Linked DNA regions of Homo sapiens: regions 2, 3, 4, 5 and 6 are each linked to region 1. The links come from fine-mapping of genetic effects on gene expression. A gene starts in region 1. Each other region holds a variant in brackets. All regions are shown on one strand. Distances are from middle to middle.

Region 1 (4,107 bases):
CTGGGACCTATGCCTGGCTAATTTTTTTTTTTTTTAATTTTTTGTGAAGACAAGGTCTCCTTATGTTGCCCAGGCTGGTCTCGAACTCCCGGGCTCAAGCAATGCTCCTGCCTGAGCCTCCCAAAGTGCTGGGATTACAGTGAGCCATCGCAAACAGCCAAATGAAATGTTGTTAATGATTATTACTGTTGCAAACCACTTGTCCTAAAAGCTTAATGTGTGTGATATTTAATACATGTTGATTAGATTATGTGCTAGTAAACACAAGTCTGTTTTTTTACAAGACTGGTTAGATATAGCCTTAGGCATCTTTCAATTGAATTCAACTACTGGTCCTTGCTGTAGGAGACAACTAAAAATAAAATAAAAAGTGAATCCAACTACTGAATATACTCTTCCACATAAAAAATGAGCCATTGGAAAAAAAATACAGAACAGTACCTGACCATTCCTAGTAAAAAGATTTTCAATACCCTTAACTGCCTATTACCAAATGAAGAATACTTCACTTGGGGGAGAGAGGGTGTTAAAAATGAAAATAATACTTCATGCGGTGGCGCGGGGGTGGTTGAAAAAAAGGTATCACCGTGCGCGGTGGCTCACGCCTGTAATCCCAACACTTTGGGAGGCTGAGGCGGGGGGATGACCAGAGATTGGGAGTTCGAGACCATCCTGACCAACATGATGAAACCCCGTCTCTACTAAAAATACAAAATTAGCCCCGCGTGGTGGCGCATGCCTGTAATCCCAGCTACTCGGGAGGCTGAGGCAGGAGAATGGCTTGAACCCAGGAGGCGGAGGTTGCGGTAAGCTGAGATCGCGCCATTGCACTCCAGCCTAGGCAACAAGAGGGAAACTCTGTCTCAAAAAAAAAAAAAAAGAAAGAAGGTATCTGAAGGGTGTGGCAACTCATCCAAGGTCACACTAGTCAGGGCAGAGAGCAACATTCTGCTTTATACTAAACCTCCAGAGGAAATCTTATAATTTCGCCAAAGAAGTTTTTGTTTTGTTTTACGCAACAACAACAAAAAAATAAAAGTAAGGAGGGAGGGCTCTCAGCTTAGTTCAAACTTCTAAACAGAGACAGTGAGATAGCTATTTTGAATAAACAAACACTTGTGCAGGGAGTGGCTAAGAGCTAACCAAAGCCAGCAGTCAACAGCATGTGAACAACTGGCCAGATCCGTCCGATTTTCAACGCTAGGTTAGAGCCTCCACTCAGAAAGTCGGTTATGAAGGCAAGAAATAGGATCTTTACAGAATGTTGGGAGGATAAATCAAAGGGGGAAAATGACTCCGTGTGAACTGTACTGCCTCCAAGGGCAAGAAGGCAGTTTTTTTCTGAAAAAATAGGTGTCAGAACAGCAGTGAATTAAGGTTAAGAAACAAGACTTCTAACAATCTCTGAGAAGAAACGACTAAGACTGGCAAAGCTAATCTTCCAGTGTTCTAAGTGAATCGCAGGAAAACCTTTCCCTCAACCAAAAAGAAGTCGCCGTTCCCCAGTTTAGCCCTAAAAATGGACCCGGGTTTTCCACGTGAAGCTGTCTGTGGGGAAGGACAGCGGCGTGGAGCCAGGGCCGAGCTCCTCCGCCTCCGGCACCCCACGCCGGAAGAAGCCTGCTCAGCGGCGGGGCCGCGCGGCCAGGTCCGGTCACGGTGAAGCGGACCCCTAAGCTCCGAGCACCTTCGGGCGAAGGAGCGCCGGTGTAGACACACACACTCAAACTCACGCGTCGTCGGAACCACTGGGGAGTCGGTGGCTCGATACGGTCTCTGGGCACTTTCCTACCCAGGTGAAAACCACCTCCTCACCCAGCTCAGCCTTCCCGGAACCCCACTCCCCTCACCTGGCCCTGGCCCCTGCCCCAGAAGAGATGAAAGAGGCGGCGGCGGCAGTTGCTTCCGACAGGGTCCCCCAGCGGCGGTGAGTGCTCCGACCCGCGGCCCTAATCTACCGCCGCCGCCATGTTGGAGGGTGAGGTCACCCCGGCGTGCCTTCGTCACGGCCGGCGTCGGGGCGGGACCTGAACTACCTGACATCCGGAACGGTATCCGGAGCGGAAGGACCGACCAACGGAGGCCCCGGAGGTCTCTCCGTCCAGATGTGACCTGAAGACCCAAACCCTCCTAGCCCGCCCAAATCTGATTGCGACGTTCGGAAGTTCCGTCTCTCAGATCATTTCCGGAGTCGAGGGGTTGGGATTCTGACCGGCTGGTCGCTGTGTTGGAGGAAGGGCAGGCGATTCCAGGGAAAGAAGCCTTGCTGCATGCACAGGCTATGTTCAGTTCCACAAACATGTATTGCGTTTCAAGTGTTTGCCAAGGGAGCAGGTCAAATAAGTATCTACACAGTCACGACAGCCTCGATGTTCGCCACTAGTTGGGGCAGATGGTCCTTGAAGGTTGGGAAGGAATTCCGGGGAGGGAATATAGCGGGGTGGTGTAGAGAGGTCCTCCTAGGCGAAGGGAACTGGCTGAGCAGAGGCGCCAGGGCATGAAGGAAGTCTTAACTAGTAACCCGCTTTTGTTAACAGTACCTGGAACACACAGCGCCTGGAACATACTTAACTTGTATTAATGGATGTTTGTTTACTTGAATCCGAGAGTTCTTTGGAGGAGTATCGGAAGGTATCTAGGAGAGAGGATACAGTGTGTTTTAGGGAGATCAAATTGCCCGTGGTGTGTGTACTGAATTGGAACAAGGAGGGCATTGACAATAAGGAGTTAGAAGACTGAGCCAGATCAGAAGTGATAAAATCCTGATGGGGAGTGACTGCCAGTGGATACAGAGTTTCTTTTTGGGGTGATGGTGGCACGACTCTTTGAAATACTGAAAACTACTGAATTGTACACTATAGGTGAATTCTATGTTATGAGATCTATATCTCAACAAGGCTATTCTAAAGGAAGTGATAAAAGAGTTGAACTGCTATTGTGGGGCTGGTGCCACAGGATGCTTTTTAAGCCCGAGTGACTGAGGAAAGGATGGTGCCATTAATAGGGACATAAAGTTTTGCAAAGGAAAGGCTTAGTGACCTTGGAAAACTAATAGTACAGGCCGGGTGTGGTGGATCACTCCTGTAATCCCAGCACTTTGAGAAGCCAAGGTGGGCGGATCACTTGAGGTCAGGAGTTTCAGACCTGCCTGGCCAACATGGTGAAACTCCCCATCTGTACTAAAAACACAAAAAATTAGCCAGGTATGGTGTCACGCGCCTGTAATCCCAGCTACTTGGGAGGCCGATGCAGGAGAATCGCTTGAGCCTGGGAGGCAAAGGTTGCAGTGAAATGGGTAACCAAAAATGAAGACTTTTTTTTTTTTTTTTTGAGGCAGAGTCTCACTCTGTCGCCCAGGCTGGAGTGCAGGGGCGCGATCTCAGCTCACTGCAACCTCTGCCTTTCGGGTTCAAGCGATTCTCCTGCCTCAGCCTCCCAAGTAGCTGGGATTACAGGCACCCACCACCATGCCCAGCTAATTTTTGTATTTTTAGTAGAGGCAGAGTTTCTCCACGTTGGTTAGGCTGGTCTTGAACTCCTGACTTCAGGTGATCCACTCGCCTTGGCCTCCCAAAGTGCTGGGATTACAGACGTGAGCCACCGTGCCTGGCTTTTTAAAAATTTTTAATAGAGACGGGGTCTCACCATGTTGGCCAGGCTAGTCTCCTACTCCTGACCTCAAGAGATCCGCCTGCCTCAGCCTCCCAAAGTGCTGGGATTACAGGGGTGCGCCACCGCGCCCGGCCCTAATTTTACTTTTAAGGTCTGTGCAGTTCACTGTATGTACACTTTACCTAAAAAAACTTTCAAAAATGTAACATGCAATAATTTATTTTGGGAGGTACTTATGTTACCAATTTGGTACATACTTAAGTTCATTTCTTTCACATTGCTCTCAGTCTTTTCCTTTATTTATTTATTTATTTTTTATTATTATTTTCTCGAGACAGAGTCTTGCTCTGTCACCCAGGCTGTAGTGCAATGGCGCGATCTCAGCTCACTGAACCTCACCTCCTGGGTTCAAGCGATTCTCCTGCTTCAGCCTCCTGAGTAGCTGGGATTACAGGCACCCACCACCACACCTGGCTAATATTTTTTTTTTGTATT
Region 2 (4,107 bases), 53 kb before region 1:
AAAATACAAAAATTAGCTGCGCGTGTTGGCGCATGCCTGTAATCCCAGCTACTCAGGAGACTGAGGCTGGAGAATTGCTTGAACCCGGGAGGCGGAAGTTGTAGTGAGCCGAGATTGCACCACTGCACTCCAGCCTGGGTGACAGAGCGAGACTCCGTCTCCAAAAAAAAAAAAAAAAAAAAAAAACAAACACTAAATAAATAAATAAATAAATAAATAAATAAACTACCCCAAAGGCATTTTTCTGCTCTGTCCACTGTGACCTATGACTTCCTTAGTTTAAGAATATTTAAGATTGATAATAGCTACCACTTACTGGTAGCTTATTATGTTAGGTTTTAATATTTCATATATTTATATTTTATATTACATATTATTATATCACATATTTGGAAACCAAAGCTCAGAAAAGCTAAGAAATTATCCCAAACCCACATAGCCGGAAAGCAGCAAGGCAGGAATTCACACTCAGATCTGGTATCAAAGGCCATTATACTACTCCCATTTCAAGTTAAGATTCTGACACATGCCATGACAATGTCTCGATGTCACATGTGGCTAATGAGCATTAGAAACGTGGCCAGTGTGCTGAAAGTATAATATACACACTAGATTTCAATGAGGAAGAAAAAACAATCCAAAATAGCTCGATAATTTTTTGTACTGAATACATGTTGAAATATTTTAGATGTACTGGGCTAAATAAAATATTAAAAATTTTACATTTCATTTTATTTTTTACTTGGCTGCTAGTTTTTAATTACATTTTAAAACCACATTATATGTGACTTGCATTGAATCGCACTGGTCTAGATATTTCAGAAAAGAATCCTGATGACACAGGCATCATTCTTTCACCTAAGTCTGTATCAAATCAATACTACAGTGATGCTGAAAGGAAATGAGATACCAGAGATGGCCTCTGTAATGATGAAATGTATACAGCATATGCTATCTTCCTGGCATCACCTTCCCATTAAAGTGAGCCTAGTACTTTTCAGATGCCTTGGGCTAAGTAGCAGATTCGTGTAAACCTTGAACTTCAGCAGATACTACACAGTCTACCTACCTATAGTTTCCCTGAAGCTTTACTTGCATATATCAGTCCCCTCACTTCCTTTCCTGAACTGTTTGGTGCTGCTGGGGGTCACAGTAGTCCTTACTGGTTGTTTGTCTACCAGGCTAAAGTATTTTAGCATCGTTCTGAATGAAACATGATTTGAAACATCATATACACAGACATACATGCACAAAAAATGCAGCAGATTAAAACATTCAAAGGAAATCAAATACATAGAAAAGTAAGTAGCTAAATAACCAATCCTACCTAGTGAGCTATTAGAATAGAGCAAAGAAGAAAAGAGCGGGGCAGGATACCTTTTTGAAACAGCTGTTGTTCTTCTGTAAGAAGGGTTCAGCAATAACTTCCTACATTAACAAAACCTTTTGGAGGAATCAGTGGTATTTTCTACCTTACGATACTGCCTTCAACGTTTATAATACTTCTAGTTTATGTAGTTTATCATCCATTAGTTATTTTCAAAGTACTAGTAACAGAGCTTAAAACTTCTAAAAACAGATTTCTGAAAAAAGAAAGAGACCTGACTTTGATACATAACCAATTTCAAAAATAATTCTATCAAGATTTGGGAAAAAAATAAACATTTGTCCAAGCCAATTCTCCTTTAAATAGAATTTGCTGTGAGAAGACATCAATTTTTCCTGTAGATCATAAAAAGGACTTCAGAAACAATACTTTTAAAAACTTACATAACACTGTTTTTTGAAGAGCTTATACTACACCATAAAGTTAAAATTAACACATGGAGAACTGAAATATTAAGGGTGACATGGTTTGCTCCAAGCCAAAGTCTGTATCAAATTTGGAAAAAGATTCTTTTTTTTTTGTTTTTGAGACAGAGTCTTGCTCTGTCACCCAGGCTGGAGTGCAGTGGTGCAATCTCGGCTCACTGCAAGCTCCGCCTCCCAGGTTCACACCATTCTCCTGCCTCAGCCTCCTGAGTGGCTGGGACTACAGGCACCCACCACCATGCTGGGCTAATTTTTTGTATTTTTAGTAGAGACGGGGTTTCACTGTGTTAGCCAGGATGGTCTCAATCTCCTGACCTCGTGATACGCCCGCCTCGGCCTCCCCAAGTGCTGGGATTACAGGCGTGAGCCACCGCGCCCAGCCAGGA[CAA/A]AAAGATTATTTTAAAAGTCTGCACCTTTCACTTCATTATTTTACTCCTGGTCCAGATAACTTTTACATTTTTGTGGAGAGAGGAGTGAAGCAGCAAATTTCTTTCTTCAAGTCTTAGATGTAACCTCAGAATATAAAATATATGAAAGTACACGTGCTCTGGTTAAGAAAAGTGGGAAAATAAATAAATAAGGCTAGGTACAATGGCTCACACCTGTAATCTTAGCACTTTGGGGAGGCTGAGGTGGGAGAGTTGCTTGAGGCCAGGAGTTATAAGACTAGTCTGGGTAACATAGTGAGACCCTGTCTCTACAAAAAATTTAAAATAAATAAATAAATAAAAAAGAAAGAAGAGTGGAGAGGCCCTAATGAGCTTAACCCACTTACTATCCCTCACTTCTTCAGGACCCCTGCAGCACCTCTATGCCTAAGGCTCCATAGAACACTTTTTGAAAACAACTGCTGTAAATCCAAATTTCCTGTGTAAGTTTTATTTCCCAACACCCATATACTTCTCTCCATATTTATATTTAAATTTTACTATATATTAGGTTAAGAAAATCCAAATACGACTTTTTTAATTTTTATTTTTAGAGACAAGGTCTTGCTCTGTTGCCCAGGTTGGAGTGCCACAGTGGTGTGATCATAGCTTACTGCAGCCTCAAACTATTGGGCTCAAGTGATCCTCCCACCTCAGCCTCCCAAGTGGCTGGGACTACAGGAACATGCCATCACACTGGCTAATTTTCTAAACATTTTTTTTGTAGAGACAGGGTCTGGCTATATTGCCCAGGCTGGTCTTTAACTCCTGGCCTCAAGCAATCCTCCCGCCTGGACCTCCCAAAGTACTGAGATTACCAAATACGATTTCATTTCACTGTTTAAGCATAATTAGTATTTTTACATTTGCTCATTTCACAATACTACGCAACAAAAAATCAAATTCTCCTAAAACCCAAATTACTTTCTTCTAACAAACGGTAATCGATATATACTTTGCTTACAGGAAAATAAAAAAAAAATTTTTTTCTTTCAGATGGAGTCTCCCTCTGTCATGCAGGCTGGAGTGCAATGGCATGATCTCAGCTCACTGCAACCTCCGCCTCCTGGGTTCAAGCGATACTCCTGCCTCAGCCTCCCGAGTAGCTGGGATTATAGGCACCTGCCACCATGCTCAGCTAATTTTTGTATTTTTACTAGAGATGGGGTTTCACCATGTTGGCCAGGCTGGTCTCCAACTCCTGACTTCCAGTGATACCTCCACCTCGTCCTCCCAAAGTGCTGGGATTACAGGCTGATTTTTAATATTTATAATAAATGATTTGGTTCTATTTTAATACTTTCCTTATTACTAGCTTCTTGCCTTTAGCTTTAATATGGTCAGAACCATAGCTAGGAGAGAAGTTCCTTCTATAAGAATGTAGAAGCAGTTCCATTGGCAGATGTGCAACCCTAAAGTTGAGCAACTTCTGGGATACAGATATAACGGTTTTTTGGGTTTTTTTTTTTTTTTTTTGAGATGGAGTCTCGCTCTGTCACCCAGGCTGCAGTGCAGTGGCAGGATCTCGGCTCACTGCAACCTCTGCCTCCCGGGTTCAAGTGATTGTCCTCCCTCAGTCTCTCGAGTAGCTGGGACTAGAGGCATGCGCCACCATGCCCGGCTAAGTTTTATATTTTTAGTAGAGACGAGGTTTCACCATATTGGCCAGGCTGGTCTTGAACTCCTGACCTCATAATCCGCCCACCTCGGCCTCCCAAAGTGCTGGGATTACAGGCGTGAGCCACCGCGCCCGGTCAATAAAATGTTAAATACAGAATTCTAAAATACAGATATAATGTTAATCCCACATTACAACGCACAAAACGCTAGCCATTATATTCATGTCACGACTAGAGGAAATGGCAGT
Region 3 (4,107 bases), 46 kb before region 1:
TAAACTCGGGAGGCGGAGGTTGCAGTGAACTGAGATCGCACCACTGCACTCCAGCCTGGGTGACAGAGCGAGACTCTGTCTCAAAAAAAAAAAGAAAAAAAAAGAAATATAAAAGACAAGACTAACATTAGGTTTCAGGATTATTTGTACATTTCATTTTTTTTAAATGGTCTCACTCTGTCACCCAGCCTGGAGTACAGTGGCATGATCTTGGCTCACTACAACCTATGCTTCCTGGGTTCAAGAGATTCTCATGCCTTAGCCTCCGAGGTAGCTGGAATTACAGGTGTGCACCACCATGCCTGGCTAATTTTTTTGTATTTTTATAGAGGCAGGGTTTCACCATGTTGGCTGGGGTCATCTCAAACTCCTGGCCTCAAGTGATCCACCCACTTCAGCCTCCCAAAGTGCTGGGACTACAGGCACCGCACCTGGTCTCGGGATTATTTGTACATTTCTATCTGTGTTTTTTCTCTACTAACGAGGAACATGAGTTATGAACATAATTTATAATTTTGATCATTAAAAATTATTGGGCAGGCTGGGTACGGTGGCTCACGCCTGTAATCCCAGCACTTTGGGAGGCTGAGGTGGGCGGGTCATGAGGTCAGGAGATCAAGAACATCCTGGCTAACACGGTGAAACCCCGTCTCTACTAAAAATTACCAAAAGAGTAGCTGGGTGTGGTGGTGGGCACTGTAGCTCCAGCTACTCAGGAGGCTGAGGCAGGAGAATGGCGTGAAGCTGGGAGGCGGAGCTTGCAGTGAGTCGAGATCCCGCCACTGCACTCCAGCCTGGGCAACAGAGCGAGACTTTGTCTCAAAAAAAAAAAAAAAAAAAAAAAAAAAAAGAAAAAGAAAAAATTATTGGGCAATATATGTCCACACAAAAACTTGCACAAGAATATTCACAGCAGCATTATACATAATAGTAAACAAGTAGAAACAACCTAAATTTCCATTAACTAATGAATGAATAAACAAAATATGACACATCCACACAGTGGAATATTATTTGACTGTAAAAAGTAATGAAGTACTGATACATGCTACAACATGGATGACCCTTGAAAACATTATGCTAAGTCGGCCAGGTGCAGTTGTTCACGCCTGTAATCCCAGCACTCTGGGAGGCCGAGACAGGTGGATCATTTGAGGTCAGGAGTTGGAGACCAGCCTGGCCAATATGGTGAAACCCCGTCTCTACTAAAAACAAAAATTAGCTGGGCGTGGTGGTGGGTACCTGTAATCCCAGCTATTCAAGAGGCTGAGGCTGGAGAATTGCTTGAACCTTAAAGTCGGAGGTTGCAGTGAGCCCAGATCATGCCACTGCATGCCAGCCTGTGCAACAGAGCAAGGCGATGTCTTAAAAAACAGCAACAACAACAAAAATACATTATGCTAAGTAAAAAATGCCAGTCACAAAAGACCACATAGTGGCCAGGCGCAGTGGATCACGCCTTTAATCCCAGCACTTTGGGAGACCGAGGTGGGCGGATCACCTGAGGTCAGGAGTTCAAGACCAGCCTGAGCAACATGGAGAAACCTTGTCTCTATTAAACGTACAAAAAATTACAGGCCGGGCGTGGTGGCTCATGCCTGTAATCCCAGCACTTTGGGAGGCCAAGGCGGGCAGAAAACAAGGTCAGGAGATCAACGAGACCATCCTGGCTAACACGCTGAAACCCCGTCTCTACTAAAAATACAAAAAATTAGTCGGGTGTGGTGGCAGGCGCCTGTAGTCCCAGCTACTCGGGAGGCTGAGGCAGGAGAATGGCCTGAACCCAGGAGGCGGAGCTTGCAGTGAGCCAAGATCCCGCCACCGCACTCCAGCCTGGGCAAAGAGCCAGACTCTGTCAAAAAAAAAAAAAATACAAAAAATTAGCCAGGTTTGGTGGC[A/G]CATACCTGTAATCCTGGCTACTCAGGAGGCTGAGACAGGAGAATCATTTGAACCTGGGAGATGGAGGTTGTGGTGGGCCGAGATGGTGCCACTGCACTCCAGCCTGGGCAATGAGAGCGAAACTGCATCTCAAAACACCACCACCACCACCACATAGTGAACTATTCTATTTATGTATATTTCCAGAATAGGCAAATCAATAAAAACAGAATGGAGATCAGTGGGTGCCTGGTGTGGGGTGGGGTTGGGGCCTGGGGCTAGTGGGAATGGGAAGTGGCTGCTAATGTGTATTGTGTTTCTTTAAGGAGAACCGAAAGTGTTCTAAATTTAGATCATGGTGATAAATTCTGTGAATACACTACAACCACTGAATTGTACTTTATTATTATTATTATTTATTTAATAAATAGAGACATGGTCTCCCTATGTTGCCCAGTGTGGTTTTGAACTCAGGGGCTCAAGCAACCCTCCTGAGGCCTTGGCCTCCCACAGTGCTAGAATTACAGGCATGAGTCCCTGTGCCCAGACTGAACTGGACCTTTTAAATGGGTGAATTTTATGGTATGTAAAATATATCTCAATAAAGCTGTAAAAATATATTTATATCATTGGGTAAGATGTTCAGTGCAGCATTACCTATGGAAGACAAAACCGGAAATAATGCAAATGCTGTGTAGTCGTCGTCCAGTGAAAAAAGGAATAATAATCCAAATGCTCCCCTCAATAACAAGGGAACAGGCCAGGCATGGTGGCTTACACCTGTAATCCCAGTGCTCACTACTGCACTCCAGCCTGGGCAACAGAGCAAGACCCTGTCTCTGAAATAGTAATAATAATAATAATAATAATAATAATAATAATAATAATGGAATGACTGAGTAAAAACATTTATTCAGTGAATGAAATTTCACGCAGTTAGTAGAGTAACTATTTTTAAAGTTTATGTTGTAATGTTAAGTGCAAAATAAAATGGCTATAAAGTTGAATGTACATTATAATTACAGTTATCTATAGTATATATGTATGCAAAAATAAAAGCGTATGCTTACTTTTTCCTTTTTATGTCGTTATTACTTATAAAGGTAATACTAAATACAAATCAAACCATAGTGAATGGAAAGAACCTTAACATGATCATTTATCCGATACTTAACATGAGAAACTGCTACATCTAACCTGTTAGGTATAGTTGGGGAACTTCCATCAACATATCCTCCAGGAAAGAAAAAAGGCTACCTTCTAGTTTTACCCTTATAAACTTCTACCAATGTATAATTGGTGTAAGTTGTTAACTGTTGAGAATACCCCACTGTAAAAATCAAATTAAACCAACAGTAAACCATAACAAACACAATCTGCTTATTAACTAGAAAAATAAGAATAAACAGACCTTCAGAAATTTCTTTGTCCAGAGATTTTAGCTCTTCTTCAATTTCAGTTTTAACTTTTAATAAAATTTCTTGATCCAGAGATTGTGAAGCTATATCTAGTTGAACCCCTGAAAGCAACAAAAAAGGTTATTATTGAAAGAGGGAGAGAGAAACCATTAGAATATAATAGCACTTTTTTTTTTTTTTTTGAGACGGAGTCTCGCACTGTCACTGGGGCTGGAGTGCAATGGCATGATCTCCGCTCACTGCAACCTCTGCCTCCTAGGTTCAAGCGATTCTCCTGCCTCAGCCTCCCAAGTAACTGGGATTATAGGCGCCTGCCACCACGCCTGGCTAATTTTTTTGTATTTTTAGTAGAGACAGGTTTCACTATGTTGGCCAGGCTGGTCTCGAACTCCTGACCTTGTGATCCGCCTGCCTCGGCCTCCCAAAGTGCTGGGATTTCAGGCGTAAGCCACTGCACCCAGCCCTACAATAGCAATTTGTTAAGCCAAAAAATGCAAAATCAAAATTCATTATCAAAATTAGGGACGGGAGGAAATCCTTTTTGCAATAATTAAAAAACAAAAATCAAAAACAACCTTTAGTAGAAATATTTGGGCCTATGGATTGAGAGTGAGTAAGTCTCCACCTTTCCAGATGTTTCTGCCAGAAACAGGGAAATTGAGCTGAATCTTCAGAAACACATTAACTCAAGAGGAGGTTGGGAAAGATGTATCAATAAGTCGGGCCAGTCCTCTCTTTTTGTAGACAATGTATCCTTTTTAAAAAGTATGAAGATGGAATATGATAAAAACAAAAAGAATTCATGCTATTA
Region 4 (4,107 bases), 88 kb before region 1:
TATTGGAAAAAATATACTAGCCCAAGGTTATAGACAGGGACCATCCAGCAATAGAGATGTTGCTGGCAAGTAACCATGGTGGTGGGTGACCACTAGCGAAAAGGGCTGAAGAGACCTCAGAAGGTCATCCAGGTTATCCTCCTGCCTTGACACAAGACACATGTGTCTCTCTAGCCAGAGTTACTTGCAGTTGCACTCACAAGTGGGGACCCCAGGTCTCCTTCATGTGATTTTCTCTGTGTACATATTTCGAAGATTCCCAAAGGCAGCATTTTTACAAGGTGGAGCTGCAGGAAGCTTCGGGGACTTGACAGACTGAGTCCAGAGCAAGCCCTCGCCCGTGGGATCTTAGCAGGAACCTGGGGGTGAAGAGGAACAGTGCAGTCCCTGAGAGGCAGCTGAGAGTACGGGCGAGCACCCTCACACTCCAGGATGAGGGCGGGGGGCAAAAAAAGAGTGGGTGCAGAGCCTGCTCATCGAGAAAGATGAAATTCTAAGGGGATTAAGAGCTAAGAAGTCAGTAGCTGAGGAGCCCACAGCTAAGTTCTCTCAGCTGGGAATTTCTATCCCAATTCTTCCTAAGTAAACCCTCTCTCGCTAAAGCAGTGGGTCTCAATAGGGGATGTTCACACGGGACATTTGGCAATGTCTAGAGACATTTTCGTTTGTCATCTCTGGGAGGGGGTGCCACTGGCATCTAGTGGGTGGAGCCCACCACACACAGGACAGCCCCAACACAGAGAATGGTCAGAACAGCACTAGTGCCAAGGCTGAGAAACCCGGTCCTGGAGGGGGTGCTTTACCCCTAAGATTCTCAATTTAGCATGAGCGGAGGCCCTTGGGATTTACAGTCAGATGAATGTGAATGCCCCACCTCAAGCCCTAACATGCCTAACATGCCACTGCCATGTTGAGCAGAAGTCCCCAATTATCCCAGAGTGTTCCACAAATGTCCAGACAGCTGCTGGAGGTTCAAATTCCAGCCAATACAACTCCAACCTTACATCCTTCTGTCTTTCTCTTCTGAAAAGCCTCCTATTTCTTTCTCAGAGCCAGGGCTACCCCGATGGCCACTGCCAGGATGGCAACAGCAGCAGCCCCTCCAAACAGCAGTATAGACTTGCCCTCAGACAGCGGCATGGGCTTCATCTCACCGGCGGGGGACAGTCTAGACTTGCCCTCAGACGGCGGCACGGGCTTCTTCTCGCTGGCAGGGGACAGCTCTTCCACAAGGCTCTCTTCCCTTGCGTTTATCTCCTTCTCACTCAGCAGCGTTTCTGTGGGTTCCAGTGCGGGGACCACCTCCTCCACTTCAGTAGGTTCAGTTGTTGCTGCTTTCACCTCTTCTTCATCAAGTTCTACAAACAGAGATGTAGCAGGGCTGGATTTCTCAACTGTGATCACTTCTGTGTCAGGTTCCCTTGTCCCCAGCAGGGAGGTGGCAGTGATATGTGGAAGCAAGGGAGCTGGGGCTTCAGGAAGTGCCTCTTGCAGCTCCCGCGCTGGCAAGACCACAGAAGCCACAGCAGCCTCTTCCATGCCCTCGGGCACCTCTTCTTTCTCCACGTGCACAATGTCAGAATTAGAGGAGTTGTTCTCACTCTTCTCTCCAGCTCCGTTGCTGTCTAAGCTTTTCACTTCTTCAGGATCCATTGCAATCTGCTGCCAGGACTCAGGGCCTAGTGACACTGGCAGGCTTTCTGTGTGCCAACTCTGGCTAGC[T/C]GACAGTGACACAGGTAAGCTCTCAGACTGCCAGGAAGTGGTCACAGTTGGAGACTCTGGGGGACTGACTTGTCCAGAGTTGTCGCTGGGCAGGATGTAAATGTCATTGCTATCTTCTGCAGTGATTCCAGGGTATTCCTCCTCCTCTGACTCAAGACTAAACACAGTGCCCTAGAAACGAAGGACAAGCGTCAATAATAAAGAATGGTAACTATTTAAAACATAAACATCAATCTGGAAAGCAAATTCTTTCCTAAACTGAAGTTCTAGGAATGAAACACTGTTTAAACCTACATAGTTTCCGAATGGAATGCATGTATTTGTAGGCCAATGCAGAGAAAGAATTTTTGACAGTCTTCTGAGCAGTCTCCTTGAAACTAAAAAATCCTAAGTTAATATACATTCAGTGTAATTCACACACAGGCTGAGAGCATCCTAATCTGAAAACCTGAAATCTGAAATGATCCAAAATCTGAGGTTTTTTTTTTTTTTTTTTTAAGATGGAGTCTTGCTCTGTCTCCCAGGCTAGAGTGCAGTGGCACAATCTCAGCTCACTGCAACCTCCGCGTCCCAGGTTCAAGCGATTCTCCTGCTTCGGCCTTCCCAGTAGCTGCAATTATAGGCACCTGCCACCACGCCCAGTTAACTTTTGTATTGTTAGTAGAGATGGGGTTTCACCATGTTGGCCAGGCTGGTCTGGAACTCCTGACCTTCAGTGATCCACCCGCCTTGGCCTCCCAAAAGTGCTGGGATTACAGGCGTGAGCCACTGTGCCCGGCCCAAAATCCGAAACTTTTTGAGTGCTGAAATGACATCACAAGTGGAAAATTCCACACTTGACCTCATGTGGTGGGTTGCAGGCAAAACACAGTCAAAAATCTGCTTCATGCACACAAAATATTATATATATTTATGTTATAAATATTGTATATTTGTAAATTAATATATTAATATTATATAAAATTACCTTCACGCTATATGTATAAGGTGCATACAAAAAGAAGTAAATGTCATGTTTGGGCTTTCCCATCCCCAAGACATCTCATCACATACACACAAACATTCCAAAATCAAAAAAAAAAAAATTAAAATCCAAAACACTTCTGATCCCAAGCACTTTGGATAAGGGATACTCACCCTGTATGTTCAATGCAGTAATTAATGCAAAACAGCAGAGAAAACAAAGGCAAGACCTTGTGCTCAAGGAATTTATCACTTAGTAGGGTATACAAATAATGCTATGTCATAGTCCAAGTGCCATTAAGAGTTCATATGGCAGTGTTGCTTTCCTTAGAAGAAGAAGAAAAAAAGTTCAGATGGGAAAAAGACCTCTTTGGGTAGAGGTCAGAGAAAGCAGGGAGATCACAGAAAGCCTCACGGAGGGACTAGCATTTCTATCAGACATCTGAAGAATGGGTAAGATTTTGGCAGGCGAAGGGTACACAGAAGACACAATGCAGGCAAAAGCACAGAGACAGAAAAAAAAGAAGATAAGGACAGAGCCCTGTTTAATTAATGCAGAGTGCCCATGAAGAATAGAAGGTCAGTGAGGACAGGACCATGGAGGAACCTGAATGACAGCTAAGAAATATGGACTTTATCCAACAGGCGATGGTTTGTCACTGACATCTCTGAGGTACAAAATTATAATCAGAGCTTTGCTTTAAAATTCCTCTGATGGCAGAGACAGAATGGAGAAATGCTGCAGACACGGAGACTCTTGCTTCTTTTGTCAGGAAGTCTGAGTGAAAGCAATAAAGCCCTACAGCACAGGCCTTGTGTCCATGTCTATTAATAACAGGCCACCGTGTGCCTACTGCTTATCAGGGTTGTGTCAGGCACAAGGGCTACGAGAAAGAATGGGTCTATTCTTACAGAATTTACTAGGCAGCTGTGAAGCCTGACATATGAATAACTAACTTCAATATGATACAGAAAGCTTTATGACAGGTGTATGCACAAGGGGCTAGGCCAACCCAGAGGGTAAGGCGCAATAAAAGGACAGGAAGAGAACCAATGGAATGGAATGTCACAGAGATGTACAGAAATTGTCATACAAAGGCTAGACAACACTCGTAAAAGCTACAGGGAATCTGAATGGAATATGTAAAGCAAATTAATTTCTACTTCATTTTATGATTATGGTTGCTATTCAACTGAAGTAGGATAATTTCATTCTTCAACCAAAACCAAAAACTTTCTACATACATCAAGGATCTAACATAAATCAAAAGTCTATCAGCCCCATAAAAAAGGAAATAAGAAATACAAATAAATCACACGACCATGATGTCGGCATCATACTGCACCACTTTCTACCTCGACCCTTGCTCCAGCCACTTCAGAGGCCCTGGTAAGCATCAAGGATGTTCTATGAGTATGGAA
Region 5 (4,107 bases), 93 kb before region 1:
ACTCTTCCACAGCATCTTCACCTGCTTCTGTTTCACTTGAATTCATACAGTAGGCCACCATTTTATAACAGGTCTTAGTGTAAATTCTTCCAGACCAAGTCTGAGATAGTCTTGGTTGTAAAGCAAGACCGTCACCCCTTCTCCCAAAGCCAACATTATAAAAAGATTCCATTGTCTCAAACACAAATGTTCCAGTCTTGAGCACTTCCCAGCCATGGTGACTCGGGCATATCCTGGCAGTTGGTGGATTTTGCCCTGTAACACAATCCTTGTGGATATGATTCAAAGGTGACTTTAATTCAGAGAATGTGTTTTCCTTTCTGTTTTAAAAATATTTGAATTAAGTGATGGAAATTCTTTTGTTAAACATCAAAAGCTTTCTCCTTGAAAAGATGCTTGGTGTATCTGAAAGTCACGTGGGACATTTGGTGCATTCAGAAGGTCAAATCATTCCTGACCTCTCCTCTTAGGACCCAGCATTAACTGCTGCGATACTCAAGGCTTCCTTAAAGGATCACAGCACTGGCGCCTAGTTTTACTGTCCAGCAACTTTATTAGTTGTGCTAGCTGAGAATTGGAATATAGAGTCCTTTGAATGTTACGATCTTGTTTTCAAAACCTGGAGTCAAACCAATTAAGTATGGACTTAACAAAGACAATTGATGATGTGAAATGATACCACCTGTCAAGGGCATAGTTACCATGTGGATAGAAAGATGAGTCCACTGATTATCTTCAAATCCCATGTATTCTCTCTAGCACGTTGCTTCTGACAGAAAGAATAACTCACAGATTTGAAGTTTGTTCCTTTCCCCTGATGAAGAGTAGATTGGCCAAAAGGTAGATGACAGGAAGGAAGAGGAGCCAGAATGACCCACAGTGATCAGTTCAGCAGTGCAGAGCGGCAGTGCAGAGGCTCATGGAACTCACACGGAAAAAGGAAACACATGCTGCTTAAAATGCACGATAACTTAATTATCCAAATTACCATTCAATTCCGGTATTTTTGAGATGAAAGCATTTGAGCCAACACTAAATTGACCTTAATTAAGGAATGAGGTAGGAAGAGGCACTTTTAATCTGGAGGAAGAAATAAATGGAAGACTGTAATAGGAAAAATACAGGTCTAGGAAAAAAATAATTTTTTTCCTTTGATGCTGGCCAAGGACCCCTCTACATAATACAGTTCTCCTGCTGGAAAGCATCAGGGCAAACAGAGTTATTCCAAACTCTGCAACAGGGAAGACTGTACTTTGACCTTCTTTTCCTGGGGAAAGGGAACAACTAGTAATCTTTAAATGTCAAAACTTTTCTTCTAAATAGTACATTCATTAACCAGTTTCTTCTGGTGGTGCAAAGAACACTCACCACAGTGAGCAATACCACTATTCAATTTCCCCTTTGGAGAGGTGACAGCGGGGTAGAATCACCTGGAGTCAGCTGCTAGTCTTTAACTGATGACAAGGCCTTGCAAATACCCCTGAGAACAATTTCACTCTGAGCTCACAGGGAAGCAGCAGTCTGGTGTGGGCTCCTGTGGTGTAACCATCAAATGTGGAAGACCTGATGGTGTTAGTGTGTGGGGATGCCGGGCTGAAATTCAACAGCCTTGCAAAAAGAAAGGGAAGATGGGATGTGTTAATATTGTAGTGGCATGCACTTTCCAGCTCTCCATGGAGCTCTCTTTATATATGAGGTAATTGAATGTCACTATTCTGTACCATACAGCAGGTATTATCTAGCCAAGGTTATAATTACCATGAAGTGCTGTGGAATGTAGTAGGAGGCTTTTCACTGGGAAGATCCTCCAGGAGCTGACGTACTTGTGGCCATACCTGGTCAACCCTCCTAAGTCCCCAACCTCTTTGTCTGTCCAGAGGCCAAGCAATGCTTCCAGGTATTCCCCTACTTCACTCCACAGCCCCACCCTTATGATGGCATACACAGGGGAGAAGGGACGAACTCGAACAAACAGAAAAAGACCAAGAAATGCATCGTGGTGCTGTCTTCACCCCCCTCATTTAGCACTTTGTGATAACTGCTGGGACAGATTGCCTAACCTTGTCTACAAGCAAAAATATTTAATCAAGAAAGCTAATGAAAGCTCATCGGCAATGACTGTGAATTCTGTAACCACAAAGCATCTCACTCAATGTCTACAGGGAAAACAGCTACATAATTGGAAGCTGAGACCAGTCCTGGACCTAACCCTCACTCTTGTTTTTTTGTAGTAGAACATGCTTAATGTTTAAGTGAGCCTATATGGTGCCTTTGTACAAATTAGAAAAATACTTCGCTTCTCCCAGAGCCCACAGCATGGTGAGCAGAGCACAGGCTGCACGTCGGAATTTGTCCCCAGTCAGTCCTTATGCAGTAAACAACTGGCGCAACTGTTTGCAGGGGACCTGCCAATACTGCTTTGCAGTGCCAGGAAAATGATAAAAACCGGCAAAATCATTGCCTTGCCTC[G/T]CCTATGCTTGAGGACGTTAGAAAAACTAACTCTGGGCCGGGCACGGTGGCTCACGCCTGTAATCCCAGCACTTTGGGAGGCCAAGGCGGGTGGATCACGAGGTCAGGAGATCGAGCCCATCCTGGCTAACATAGTAGAGACCCTGTCTCTACTAAAAATACAAAAAAAGCAGCCGGGTATGGTGGCGGGCGCCTGTAGTCCCAGCTACTTGGGAGGCTGAGGCAGGAGAATGGCGTGAGCCCGGGAAGCGGAGCTTGCAGTGAGCCGAGATTGTGCCACTGCACTCCAGCCTGGGCGACAGAGCAAGGCTCTGTCTCAAAAAAAAAAAAAAAAAAAAAAAAGGAAAAAGAAAAACTAACAAACTCTGATTAGGTTCTTCATTCTGTAATATGGGAATAAAAGGAATACAAACAGCTATTAGAACTGTGAAGGTGAAATAAGGTATGTGAGAGCACTAGAACCGTCTCTGGCATGTTATAAATGCTCAACTAGTATTTGCTAAAATATAATTATCGACATGAATTTTTTTTAGGAAAAATTATACACCCTAAACTCAAATGAATGTCATAATTGAGAGATTATCACTAAGGGCAGGTTTTGGTGCACCAGAGAAGAGGAAACATTATTCTGGTATCCAGTATGTCGCTGAGATGTTAAACGAGATAATGCTTGTGTGGGAATTTGGGCAGAAGCTCTAGGTCGTGTCTGTTAGCAATCAGATAGCCTACAAGGCCGTCTTGATGGGTATGATCACCACCTCAAATTCTTGGAAAGATAAGTTTGTGTGGAAAGATGTAAGAAATTAAGAGAAAGGGAAAATTCTTAGCTACAAAACGTTTTATTTCTATAAAACATCTCTTAAAATAATTCAAACACTGAAATGTCCACATCTCATACCTTTCAGGAGAAAGGCAAGGAGACTACTTGCCTTACTGTCATATTATTGAGGGAATCAGCGCAAAGCCTGAGGAAATGAACAGTAGCTGTGGGTCAAAGCCATGTCTCCAGGTTCACGGCTCACTCCCCCAGGACAAGCCTAGTTAGGTAGTGGCTGCATCTGGTATCCCTGGGACAGAAATGCAGGTGAGAAGGGGTATCAAGAATGCCTCGAGGGGGAGATGGGTGAACCAGAAGGTCAACAGTTGCATTTCTTCATCTAGAATGTTCTCTAGAAGGGAATGATGATCATGAGAGTCCCCTTAAGGCACACCGCAGGTACTGACTGATTTCTGTGGGCCCAGAATTATCACTTTAATACAGAGAGGATAAATTGGCGTTGTTTTTTCCCCCCAATAAATCATTACCTTCAACAGAGCAGTTGAGATGAGGTCTAAGGACTAACAAGAACTTTTCTATAAACAAGTTGGATTTATTCTGAATCTTTCCTTCACCTTAGACTTAGAGGGTATAAGTTGGAGGTGGAAGGAATGGCCTCCTACTATCAGCTCCTCCCCCCAAAAGGAGGGGAAGCTTGAGAAATAGTTTTTTAAATGTATGAGCAAAAAGCAGGAGCTGCAGTAGGAAGCAGTCCTCATGAGGGCTGTTCCCTTCCACTGCTGGAGGCAGAGGGTGAGGACGTGAAGGAAGAACAGGGATGCTGCCACATCCTGTTAACTCAGGAGCTGACCAAGAGCTAC
Region 6 (4,000 bases), 30 kb after region 1:
TTATTTATTGCCCTTATTTTCTCTTTGCTTTAATTTTTTAATCCACTTGTTTATATTTTATTAGTTATTTTTTCTAATTTGCTTTTTAAAAAACGTAATTAACGTTTTCATTAGATATACTTCTGTAAGCTGCCTTAAATCTATTAGAATATATAAATAATTACTAGTTGGCTTTTAGAAGGAATTTTTTTTTAAGAGGCATGGTCTGGCTATGTTGCCCAGGCTGGAATGCAATGGTGCAGTCATAGCTCACAAACTCCTGGGCTCAAGCAGTCCTTCCCACCTCAGCCTCCTATGTAGCTGGGATAACAGGCAAGAGCCACCATGCCTGGCCTCAGAGGGAAAATTTGAAGTGGCATAGATAAGAAAACTTGACACCTAAAATTCAGATCATTCATTCATTTATCAAATACTTCAATATCGGTGCTTCTCAACTTTTTTCCCTTCTCTCTGGAATATTCATACAGTTATTTTACATTTTAGTAACATCTCTCATGACACACAGTGGTTTTCAAATTTTGAGGTGGAGGATATTAAAAGAAAGTGTGGGGCTGGGCGTGGTGGCTCAGACCTGTAATCCCAGCACTTTGGGAGGCCGAGGCGGGCGGATCACGAGGTCAGGAGATTGAGACCATCCTGGCTAACAACGGTGAAACCACGTCTCCACTAAAAATACAAAAAATTAGCCGGGCGTGGTGGTGGGCGCCTGTAGTCCCAGCTACTCGGGAGGCTGAGGCAGGAGAAAGGCGTGAACCCAGGAGGCCGAGCTTGCAGTGAGCTGAGATCGCACCACTGCACTCCAGCCTGGGTGACAGAGCCAGACTCCGTCTCAAAAAAAAAAAAAAAAAAAAAAGAGCAGGATGGGCATGGTGGCTCACGCCTGTAATCCCAGCACTTTGGGAGGATGAGGCGGATGGATCACTTGAGGTCAGGAGTTTGAGACCAGCCCGGCCAATGTGGTGCCCTGTCTCTACTAAAAATACAAAAAAATTAGCTGGGTGTGGTGGCGGGCGCCTATAGTCCCAGCTACTCGAGAGGCTGAGGCAGGAGAATTGCTTGAACCCGGGAGGCGGAGGTTGCAATGAGCTGAGATCCCGTCATTGCACTCCAGCCTGGGCGACAGAGTGAGACTCCGCTCAAAAAAGGAAAAAAAAGGAAGTGCAGTTGTATGGAATGAATTTTTGTTTGTTTGTTTGTTTGTTTGTTTTGTTTTGTTTTGTTTTTTGAGACGGAGTCTCGCTCTATCGCCCAGGCTGGAGTGCAGTGGCAGTGGCGCGATATCAGCTCACTGCAGACTCTGCCTCCCGGGTTCACGCCAGTCTCCTGCCTCAGCCTCCTTGAGTAGCTGGGACTACAGACGCCCGCCACTGCGCCCGGCTAATTTTTTGTATTTTTAGTACAGACAGGGTTTCACCGTGTTAGCCAGGATGGTCTCGATTTCCTGACCTCGTGATCTGCCCGCCTCGGCCTCCCAAAGTGCTGGGATTACAGGCGTGAGCCACTGCTCCCGGCCAATGAATGTGTTTTAATTTCAACTTAGGATAGTTTTCCAAAATACAGTAATCCATCATATTCTTTCAGAGATGGGCTAGCCAGGTGCCATGGCTCATGCCTGTGGTCACAGCACTTTATGAGGCCAAGGTGGGAGTGTGGCTTGAGGCCAAGAGTTTGAGACCAGTCTGATAAATATAGGGAGACCCTGTCTGTACAAAAAATTTTTAAAAATTAGCAAGGTGTGGTAGCGCATGCCTGTGGTCCCAGCTACTCTGGAGGCTGAGATGGGAGAATCACTTGAGCCCAAGAGTTTGAGGCTCCAGTGAGCTGTGATTATGCCACTGCATTCCAGCATAAATGACACAGGGAGACCCTGTCTCTAAAAATAATAAATAATAGAAACAAAAAGAAATGGGCTAGAGAAAAATAATTCTTTTTATGACCTTGAAAGACAAAGCAGTCATTCAGTTCATACCACATGTCTTTCCCGGATTTAGTCACTCTGAGTTTGTCTGCTGACTTTAAAATTGTTGCAAACAAAATTCTGGTTTTGGTACTCATGTTATCCCTCAGTTGTCACTCTTCTGTTTTCATGTCATAACTCAGTTGGGTTCCCTTGAGGCACTAAGCTGTTTGAATTTAACAGTACATTTATCCCATGTGTCCTGTATCGTGCTGGCCCCTCTAGGAGTCTGCAGTCTAATAGGACCTGGACAAGATAATACATCTCCACTACAGCTGTTTGAGCATGACTTGAAGTATTAGTCATGGGATAGGATACAGAATGGAGAGAGCAGTGTGAGTGAAAAACCGAGACCTGAATTTGACATGTGCGGGAAACAGAGGTAGTCTGGCAGAGTGGGGAGTGGGCAGAGAACAGGCCACATATTAGGGTCTAATTAGAAGGGCCTTGAGTGTCTGCTGA[A/G]GAATATGGACTTCATCCTTTTGGCTAATTCTCTAACTTTAATGGGCATAAAAATCACCTGGGGGACCTTGTTAAAATGCAGATGTTCATTCCCATTTCCAGAGACTTTTATATTCTAGTCAGGAGTCAGCATTTAAACCAGCAGCTCAGGGTAATCTTGGTGCAGGTAGTCTGAGAACCACACTTTGAGAAATAGTGTTTAATGGTTACATTTGTGTTAGAGGAACCCCACTGGTGACCATGTGGAGTAGAAACAAGGAGGGTATGGCTTACCTTCCAGGTCGAGAAGTAGAATGGTGGCAGCAGAAAGAGAAGACAGGCCTATTCCAGAGATCCTAAAAAGGTAGGAATCTGTAGGACTTGGTGACTTACAGTTGTGATGAGTGAATGCAAAGGAGTCAAGAATGACATAAGAGTTTGTAGTCTAGGCAACTGGTAGATGGAATGAAGATTAGAAATATGGGAAGATAATCCCAGCACTTTGGGAGGCCGAGGCAGGCAGATCGTGAGGTCAGGAGATCGAGATCATCCTGGCAAACATGGTGAAACCCCATCTCTACTAAAAATACAAAAATTAGCTGGGCCTGGTGGGGGGTGCCTGTAATCCCAGCTACTTGGGAGGCTGAGGCAGGAGAATTGCTTGAACCAGGGAGTCAGATGTTGCAGTGAGCCAGGATCACGCCACTGCACTCCAGCCTGGCGACAGAGTGAGACTTCATGTCAAAAATAAAAAAAAAAAGAAATATAGGAAGAACAGGTAAAGAATGGTGAAAAAAATCATTGTGTTTGAATTGCCTTAGGATTCCAGGTGAAGCTCTATGAGTCTGTTAGGAGAGAAGAGGAGCTTATGTGGAGACAACACAGAAGTCCCTGCTGGAGCTGTGGTTTTGGATGGAGAATTAGAAGAGAAGCGGGCCAAAAAAACTGAGAAGCATCAGATTTAATAGAAAATAAATTGCTAAGGAAATGTGGGGGAAAGCAGTTATGTTGGAGAATACAGAGAAGCCAAGGGAACGGCAAACTCAAAATGGTCTCTAATACAGTGTTCAATGTTTGAGAGAATGACAGTGGGAAGAGCATGGTGGTCTTTGGATTTGGCAGTCAAGATGTCGTTTTTCACATTTGCCAGAGCAGTTTCATTGGACTGATGAAGGCAGAAAGCCAGATTGTTATGGCATGAGAAGGGAGAAGTGCGTGTGAGGTGAGGAGCTGAAGGCAGCGTGCGTGGCCTGTTCACAAGCTGGGCTGTGTGTTTTAATCTCTTTTGGAACAAATCCAAGTATACTGTTGCATGCAACTTGAATTCAGTATATAGCTTGAGCTTTTATATTATTTCTCTGACTTATAATGAGAATTTTGAGAAGATAAACATTTATGTAATTTCAGTTATTCTAAAGATACTTGTTTCTTTTTTAACCGCTTACAGTCTTAACTTCTTGCCGTCATTGAACCCTGTAAATAAGAGATGTGGAGAGTTGAGGAAACAGACTGTGAAATGATACCGATCAAACAGGATTCAATCTGCATAAAAGCACACATACATGCTTTGAGTGGATTTTGCTATTTCTAAACTTTTTACTT

Which allele goes with the higher level. Positions count from the first base shown, and alleles are read on the strand shown. Sizes are in standard deviations (SD) of each study's normalised expression. Not every link is listed here.
In carriers of allele C in region 4, the expression in cerebellar hemisphere of the gene that starts at base 1,980 in region 1 tends to be lower than with T alone (small effect, 0.38 SD a copy in GTEx).
In carriers of allele A in region 6, the expression in activated naive CD4 T cells of the gene that starts at base 1,980 in region 1 tends to be higher than with G alone (large effect, 1.3 SD a copy in Schmiedel 2018).

Evidence for each region.
Region 2: its variant is fine-mapped to the expression of BCL2L13 in whole blood (INTERVAL, PIP 0.98).
Region 3: its variant is fine-mapped to the expression of BCL2L13 in whole blood (TOPMed, PIP above 0.99).
Region 4: its variant is fine-mapped to the expression of BCL2L13 in cerebellar hemisphere (GTEx, PIP above 0.99).
Region 5: its variant is fine-mapped to the expression of BCL2L13 in whole blood (TOPMed, PIP above 0.99).
Region 6: its variant is fine-mapped to the expression of BCL2L13 in activated naive CD4 T cells (Schmiedel 2018, PIP 0.95).

Annotation. Positions count from the first base shown.
Region 1 is chr22:17,636,630-17,640,736 of GRCh38, reverse strand. BCL2L13 (BCL2 like 13) reads right to left here and starts at 1,980. Exons shown (of 7, transcript NM_015367.4): 1 at 1,851-1,980. RefSeq lists enhancers at 1,098-1,970, 1,739-2,018, 2,139-2,318, 2,369-2,418, 1,971-2,842 and 1 more.
Region 2 is chr22:17,689,452-17,693,558 of GRCh38, reverse strand. All of the region lies in intron 4 of BCL2L13 (BCL2 like 13), which reads right to left. Among named protein-coding and RNA genes, the nearest start is that of BCL2L13, 53 kb to the right of the region's middle. The variant CAA/A (reference allele first, on the strand shown) is at 2,199.
Region 3 is chr22:17,682,504-17,686,610 of GRCh38, reverse strand. BCL2L13 (BCL2 like 13) reads right to left here. Exons shown (of 7, transcript NM_015367.4): 3 at 3,290-3,397. Among named protein-coding and RNA genes, the nearest start is that of BCL2L13, 46 kb to the right of the region's middle. The variant A/G (reference allele first, on the strand shown) is at 1,899.
Region 4 is chr22:17,724,463-17,728,569 of GRCh38, reverse strand. BCL2L13 (BCL2 like 13) reads right to left here. Exons shown (of 7, transcript NM_015367.4): 7 at 1-1,893. The coding sequence ends at 1,036. Among named protein-coding and RNA genes, the nearest start is that of MIR3198-1, 38 kb to the left of the region's middle. The variant T/C (reference allele first, on the strand shown) is at 1,723.
Region 5 is chr22:17,729,805-17,733,911 of GRCh38, reverse strand. It overlaps BCL2L13 (BCL2 like 13), which reads right to left. Exons shown (of 7, transcript NM_015367.4): 7 at 3,057-4,107. Among named protein-coding and RNA genes, the nearest start is that of MIR3198-1, 32 kb to the left of the region's middle. The variant G/T (reference allele first, on the strand shown) is at 2,470.
Region 6 is chr22:17,606,318-17,610,317 of GRCh38, reverse strand. The region is part of intron 4 of ATP6V1E1 (ATPase H+ transporting V1 subunit E1); the gene reads left to right. Among named protein-coding and RNA genes, the nearest start is that of ATP6V1E1, 20 kb to the left of the region's middle. The variant A/G (reference allele first, on the strand shown) is at 2,420.